Regions from separate parts of the Homo sapiens genome. Here region 2 is reported to be linked to region 1. Evidence: microRNA targets listed by miRTarBase, many of them from high-throughput screens and not tested one by one. Region 1 holds a microRNA gene; the other region holds the end of a gene's coding sequence.

Region 1 (3,986 bases):
AGCATGAGGTCTTCTTGCTCCAGTACTGTAGGGTTCTTTTTTTTGTTTTTGTTTTTGTTTCTTTTTGACGGAGTCTTGCTCTGTTGCCGAGGCTAGAGTGCAATGGCACGATCTCGGCTCACTGCAAGCTCCGCCTCCTGGGTTCAAGCCATTCTCAAGCCTTAGCCTCCCGGGTAGCTGGGACTACAGGCACCCACCACCACGCCTCGCTAATTTTTTGTATTTTTAAATAGAGATGGGGTTTCACCGTGTTAGCCAGGATGGTCTCGATCTCCTGACCTCGTGATCCACCCGCCTCGGCCTTTCAAAGTGGTGGGATTACAGGCGTGAGCCACAGCGCCCAGCTTTTTTTTTTTTTTTTTTTTTTCAGACGGAATCTCACTCTGTCATCCTGGCTGGATGCTGTGGCACAATCTCGGCTCACTGCAGCCTCTGCCTCCCGGGTTCAAGCAATTCTCCTGCCTCAGCCTCCTAAGTAGCTGGGATTACAGGTGCCCACCACCACACTGGGCTAATTTTTGTTGTTATTGTATTTTTAGTAGAGACGGATTTTCACCACGTTGGTCAGACTGGTCTCAAACTCCTGACCTGAGATGATCTACCTGCATCGGCCTCCCAAAGTGCTGGGATTACAGGCATGAGCCACCATGCCCGGCTTTATTTTGTATTTTTATTCATTTGTTTATTTTTTGAGACAGAATTTCCCTGTGTTGCCCAGGCTGACCATTTGAAGCCAAGAGATATATTGGACATGTCACTGCACTCCAGCATGAGCAACACAGAGCCTTAGAATAAAAAAGCAAAACCAAAACAGAACCCCACCATCGTCCAAGTGTGATAAGCATGCTCTGCAAATGTATTACCGAAATCAGCATCAACTTCAACGTTGCTTTTCTCAAACCGTAACCCACCAAAGAGAAGCACTTTCTTTTCTTTTAGACAACAGAAAGGGCTTCCCTTTGTAGACTCACAGCTTGAGATCTTCTTGCTCCGGCACTCTGGGTTTCTTGTTGAAATTTTCCTTGACCTGGTCAAAATGGACACAAAAATAAAGATGCATTTATTGGTCCTGTTTGCATATTTTCTGGAATCTAGAACATAAACCGATACAAAGACCATCTCCAGTTCCTTGCTTCAAACGTTCAGCAGGTTAGCCTTGTTCATCGAGGGACAACTGTCCTGGGTTTTGTCTTCAAAGAGAAAAAGCAACGCCTACTACATATACCTTATATTCTCAGGAGTTAGACACCAGCCTGGGAAACATGGTAAAACCTCATCTGTAAAAATACAAAAGTTAGCCAGGTATAGAGGTGCATGCCTGTAGACACTAATTCAGGAGGCTGAGGTGGGAGGTTGAGGTTGCCGGGAGCCGAGATCACACCACTGCACTCCAGCATAGGTGACAGGGCCAGATCTTGTCTCAAAAACAAACGAACGAACAAACAAAAAATGCACACACCAACAAAAAAATGCCCAAAGTGATATAAGAGTATTCTCAGGGTGTAAAAGAGTCTTTTGTGTGTACATGATATTATATATATAAGAATATATGAAGGCCAGCCGCGGTGGCTGTCTGCAATCCCAGTACTTTGGAAAGCCAAGGTGGGCAGATCACCTGAAGTCGGGAGTTTGAGACCAGCCTGACCAACATGGAGAAATCCCGTCTACTAAAATACAACAAATTAGCTAGCCCTGGAAGTGTATGCCTGTAATCCCAGCTACTCAGGAGGCTGAGGTAGGAGAGTCGCTTTAACCCAAGAGGTGGACATCGCAGGGAGCCCAGATCACACCATTGCACTTCAGCCTATGCGACAAGAGCAAAACTCAGTCGCAAAAACATAAAAAATAATAATAATAAAAGAAACTTCCATATATTGTATGCTCACAGGAAGAATACTTCCTACACACAAGTGCTAGCTTTGGCAGCACGCATGAAAAAATTGGAATGACAAAGATTACCATGGGCCCTGCGCAAAGGTGACACTCAAATTCATGATGATCTCATATTTATCTATTTTTATTTTTTAACGTTTAATGTTTATTTAATAGTTTTATTTATTTATTTAGAGACAGAGTTTCACTCGTTGCCCAGGCTGGAATACAATGGCACAATCTCGGCTCACCACAACCTCCGCCCCCTGGGGTTCAAGTGATTCTCTTGCCTCAACCTCCCGAGCAGCTGGGATTACAGGCATGCGCCACCATGCCCGGCTAATTTTGTATTTTTAGTAGAGATGGGGTTTCTACGTGTTGGTTAGGCTGGTCTTGAACTCCCGACCTCAGGTGATCCGCCACCTCGGCCTCCCAAAGTTCTGGGATTACAGGCATGAGTCACTGTGCTCGGCCTATTTATTTAATTTTTGAAACAGAATCTCACTCTGTCACCCAGGATGGAGTACAATGGTGTGATTTCGTCTCACTGCAATCTCCTTTTCCCAGGTTCAAGAGATTCTCTTGCCGTGGCCTCCCAAGTAGCTGAGATTACAGGTGTCCACCACTGTTCCCAGCCATTTTTCCTAATTTTAGTATAGACGAGGTTTTGCCTTGTTTGCCCAGCTAGTCTTGGACTCCTGACCTGAGGAGATCCGCCTGTCCTGGCCTCTCAAAGTGCTGGGATTACAGGAGTGGACCACCGTGTCTGGCCTATTTTTTATGTTTTTGAGATGGAGTCTCACTCTTTTTGCCGAGGCTTGAGTGCAGTGGCGTGATCTCAGCTCATTGAAAGATCAGCCTTCCAGCTTCAAGCGACTCTCCTGCCTCAGCCTCCAGAGTAGCTGGGATTACAAGCATATACCACCACCATGCTGGGCTAATTTTGTATTTTTAGTAGAGATGGGGCTGCACCATGTTGGCCAGGCTGGAATCAAATTCCCGACCTCAGGTGATCCTCCTGTCTCAGCCTCCCAAAGTGCTGGAATTACAGGCGTGGGCCACTGTACTCTGCCTGGTGCCATTATTAAAACTAGGAAAAAAGAAAGATGCCCACACCTAAACAGCAAATCATTTGTTGTTCAAGTATGTCTCAAATGCAGTCTTCATCTAAAATACTAATTTGACTGGCGGCTAGGTGTGAACCAAAGAACGGTCCTTTCTTTCCTCTTGCCTGTGCATGGTTAATATTCACATGTAGTCCCAGCTACTAAGGACTGGGGAGAGGTGGAGGCAAAAGGACCTAAGCCCATTTTAGCCTGGGCAGCATAGTGAGACCCCTGTCTCGTTGCACATATGACCTGGTCGTGCAGCCAAGAGTTCAGCTGCATTTACCCAGTGAAAACTCAAAGCCATGCACTCCACCTCCGTGCCCCAGTGAAAACTCAAAGCCATGCACTCCACCTCCGTGCTCTTGCTAAGCAGGGCACATCCCATCTGCAAGGGACAATGAGGTCCCCCACCCCCTTATTTATTTATTTATTTTTTTGAGACAGAGTCTTGCTCTGTCGCCCAGGCTGGAGTGCAGTGGTGCCATCTCGGCTCACTGCAAGCTCCGCCTCCCGGGTTCACACCATTCTCCTGCCTCAGCCTCCCGAGTAGCTGGGACTACAGGCACCCGCCACCACGCCTGGCTAATTTTTTGTATTTTTAGTAGAGACAGGGTTTCACCATGTTAGCCAGGATGGTCTCGATCTCCTGACCTCGTGATCCACCCGCCTCGGCCTCCCAAAGTGCTGGGATTACAGGCGTCAGCCACCACACCCAGCCTGAGGTCCCTTTTAAATCTGCCCGACCCCAAGTGAGGTTCTATAAACCAGCGCCAGTATCATTTCCATGGAGTAGAAGGTGTTGATGGCTCGGTGCAGTGGCTCACGCCTGCATTTTCAGCACTTTGGGAGTCTGAGGCGGGAGGATCACTTGAGGTCAGGGGCTTGAGACTAGCCTGGCCAACGTGGTGAAACCCATTTTCTACTAAAAAAAAACAAAAAGGGCATGATGGTGACACATATAATTCCAACTACTTGGGAGGCTGAGGCAGGAAAATTGCTTGAACC
Region 2 (3,810 bases), not on the chromosome of region 1:
AGCTGGGGCTGTGTGGGGACAGACACCACAGCCTTGGAGAGACAAGTCACATCCTCAGCTTCCCCTCAACCTGTGCAAGCACCGCGTTGCCATGGTGATGCTGCAGCCCTGAGATGCAATGGCTGCAGACAGCATGGGTGGTTCTAGGGCTCAATGCCGAGGTGGACGCTGTCTGGCCTGGGAGGCCAGGCGATTGGGTGGGCTGGGTGGGGGAGGAGAGGGAGCCCTCCTTTAGGTTCAGCTGGTAATTGCTGCTAAATGAAGGGCTGTCATTGAACCCAACATGTGCGAGGTAAGGGCCCCCGCTCTGCACCTTGTAATTACTGCACCAGACAGCAACGCTTGCTCCCTGTGCTGGGAGGCGGGCAGTGGGGGAGCAGACAGGAAGCTCTCATCCACCTGAGCCAGCGGGGCTCTGGCAGACTCCCCCTGCCGCCCAAGCAGCCTGCATCCCAAGCAGCCTCTAAGACGGAGGAGGCCCTGGCCCCCCTCCTTGGCTGGCTCTTCCCACATCATCCAGCTGGAGCACGAGCCTCCTTTAATCTTGGCCTCTGAGCTTGCGGAATCCAAGGGGGGCAGAGGTGCAGGAGCCAGATAAGAGGCCGCTTCCAAGCGCCCTTGGTGCTCCACCTCCGCCTGCTGAGTCTGTGCTGGGAATCTGAATTAGAGGCAGATCTCGGTCTGACTCCTGAGCACGGAGGCTCTGAGGGCCTCGGGCTAGTCACCGCCCCCTCCTGGCTTCAGTCTCCTGCTGCAGAAGTGGAAGTTGGACTCGAGAATTCTTGAGGGTTCTCCTGCTGGTAAACTTCAGCCAGCAAGCTGGATCCTACTTTTGTAAATGGGGTTTCACTGGGACAGCCACACCCTGGGTCTGTGTCATCTATGGCTGCTTTTGTGCTACGATGGCAGAGTAGCTGCAACAGACGCCATATGGTCCCCAAACCCCAAATATTTACTATCTGGCCCTTTACAGGAAGTTTGCAGACCCATTTTTAAAGTATTAAAGTTCTCCTGGGCTTAACCGAACGAGCTTTAGTGACTCCAACCTGATGGAAACAATTTTAGAACAAGCCCTATCCTTGTCCCCACCCATGGATACCCACTGTCCTCTTCCAAGCACCCCTTTTCTGCCGGTGTCTGGATAGCCGTGGCAGGGCAGCTGGGCTCTGGGAGCCAGTGTGGTGCAATGGCGCCACCTGCTGTGAGTGCCTAGGAGCACTTCGCCTGGAAAGCTTTGTCCCCAAGGGCCGGGGGGGTCTCCCATGGCCCGGGAACCAGTTTACAGGAGTAGACTCAGTCCACAGCACATCAGAGCTGGGGTCTTGCCCCCTCCCTTCCTCATTTGAGAGAGGCCTGCAGTCTAGAGAAGACGTGGGACTTGGCCAAGGAGGAGTGGAAAGCCCAAGCCCCAGGGGCCCATGAAGTTCCAGGAGGCTGTGTGGATGTCACGTGCAGCACGTGCACACACAGACGTACACAGACTTGGATGTGAACCTCAGCCCGGCCACTTAAGCAGCTCTTTATCTTTTCCAGGCTTTAGTCTCTTAGTTGTTAAAAGGATTAAAAGAAATGCTTATATAACATTTAATCTGTTACTAATAATGACTCAATCTTCAAAAGGACTCTGAGATAGACATTATCCCCATTTCACAGATTAAAAAACTACGGCACAGACAGGTTAGGTCATTTGCTTAGGGTCACACAGCTAGTGACAAAGCCAGTATTCAAACTAGGCTGTGAAAACATGTAAGGTCTCCAGAATGCAGTACTCAGTAAACATTCATTTATTTCCTGCCAGCAGGTGCAGTGGGGCCCCACTGGGGAGGGGACTGGTGTTCTAACAGGAGCGAGAAAATGAAGGAGGCCTGGCTTAAGACCAGACATTTGAAGAAGGCTCCAGGCAGGGAAAGGAAAGGAGAGGCCAGGCCCACACTGTCCCCTCCCTGCCCCCACGTCTCCAGCAACACAAGGCGGCCAGTGGACCGTGAACCATTTATTTCCAAACTATAAAGAAACCTGCTCTCTGAGAAAAGACACTGCCCAGGTGATGAAGCTCCAGCCCCTGGAGGTCCAAAACCCAGTCCAAACTCAGTCCCTTTAGAAAGCTGCTGTGCCTTGGAAATGAGTCTCGGCTGTCAGAGCCTGGGAAGTGGTGGGAAGAACCAGCCCACTCCCCTCTCCTGCTGCGATTCCAGCGCAGCTTGGGCCCAGCTCTGGCCAGTCCCAGGCTGGCCTGGTGCTCGCCCCTTGTGTGACCAGGCTCTGAAGGGAGGGGCAAAAGTCATGAGTCCCTGGCTTGGCCCCACCACCTGGTGACTCCCGTCCACAGCTCCCAGCTACCATGATGAGCCCTGGCGGCTTGAGCACAGTGAGTGCTGGCAGCAGGCTGGGGAGTGGCCTGCTTCTAAGCCATTTGCCCTGGCTGGTCACTGCTGCCCCTGGGCCACAAAGTACTCCTCCTCCTCATTGTCACCTTCCTCCCGCTGGCTGCTCCGGAGCAGCAGCTCCAGGTCGGGGCTGGAGCCCAGCCCCTTCAAGGCCTTGGGGCCACCATCACCTTGGGATAGAGAGAGACCACAGTTACAGGCCCAGTCGTGGTTTTCTTGGTTTGCTCTGATTTGCATGTGTGCTGAGTCACCCAGGCCCCACCCACCCACTCTGGAGATGACCCCCACATCTTCCTAGAGGAGTGACGGCAGCAGAGCCACCGGGCACACTTCCTGCATCAGAATCACTAAGAGTCACAGGGAGAAGAACAGAAAACAGAGGCTTCTGGAAGGGACTCTGGGTTACCTCTGGAATGCAGGGCTTTGAGGGCAACGTGGAGGGATATTCCCGAGAGGCAGAGGGCGAAGCCCAGCCAGTTCAGGAGGCTGATCTGATCGCCCAGCAGATGAGCTGCCAACAGCAAAGTGCAGACTTCCTGGGGGCAGAGAAGCAGGAGGGAGCATGATCAACAGGCAGATTTGGCTGCTTGACCAGGAGGGTGGAAGGTGGGGGCACTAGGTACACTCAGGTGGGCAGATCAAGATCTTACTGAAATCCTGGGCCCAGGCAGGCAGAGAGGTCAGGGGACCCGGCCGGCTTGCGGCGCTGTCCCGCCAGCCTCCTTTTGTGAGATGCAACAAAGGAGGTGCTTGTCATGGAATTCTGTCAGGAATAAAAGAGGCAAACCAGATCCCAGGCTGGGGACCAGGGTGTCCAGATCGCGCCTTATCCACAAGGATAAAGGACGGCTGCCCCAGAAGGCAGCCACAGAAGAGAGCCCTGAGCCTATGTGTGAGAATGCTGTGTTACCCCGGACTGAAGACACAACTGGTCCCGGGGCTCTCTATAAACAGAGACTCCAAACAGGACTGGCAAGGCCGTTCATCCAAGAACCACAGCCATGCCTCAGCATGCGGCTGGCCACCAGAAGACCCTTGGACAGGCCTGCATTTCTGGGTTTAGGCAACACTGCTTCAACACTGGTGTGTGCCTGGCCAAAGAGAAAAGTCCCTCCCTGCCCCTGAACAGGGAGGACTGTTGAAATGTGTGGGAGGGAGAAGGAGAAGTGAGAAGAGGTATGAGAGGGAAGGACAGGCCTGCGAGGCAGAGGTACAGCAAGGCTGGCCACAGGGGTGCTTTCTCAGGGTCTCACTAGCCCTGGCCATGGCCTTGGAGGACACCGCCAGTCAATCACGGAACTCTTTCCTGATGAGTCTGGATAGGGGCTGTTCAACCTGTGGCTCCAGGCCACTGCCCAGTGCCAGAGTTGGCAGTCAAGGTAAAATGTGAATGCATTCCAGGCCTAGCAGAGTCAGAGCTGGC

The links. Region 1 holds the annotated microRNA hsa-miR-520d-3p (AAAGUGCUUCUCUUUGGUGGGU, at 906-927, opposite strand). A microRNA usually pairs through its seed, bases 2 to 8, with sites in the 3' UTR of a target mRNA and lowers its output. Matches are read on the target gene's strand: a 7mer-m8 pairs with bases 2 to 8, a 7mer-A1 pairs with bases 2 to 7 and ends in A, and an 8mer does both.
Region 2: miRTarBase lists SLC35H1 as a target of hsa-miR-520d-3p. The part of its 3' UTR that is shown has no 7-base or 8-base seed match.

What each region holds. Positions count from the first base shown.
Region 1 is chr19:53,717,090-53,721,075 of GRCh38, reverse strand. It overlaps MIR520D (microRNA 520d), which reads right to left and starts at 980; the gene lies at 894-980. It also overlaps the pseudogene RNU6-803P.
Region 2 is chr20:46,347,968-46,351,777 of GRCh38, forward strand. It overlaps SLC35H1 (solute carrier family 35 member H1), which reads right to left. Exons shown (of 10, transcript NM_015945.12): 9 at 2,794-2,923; 10 at 1-2,557. The coding sequence ends at 2,427. Among named protein-coding and RNA genes, the nearest start is that of SLC35H1, 15 kb to the right of the region's middle. RefSeq lists a silencer at 2,903-3,197 and enhancers at 3,313-3,810, 3,458-3,597, 3,608-3,667.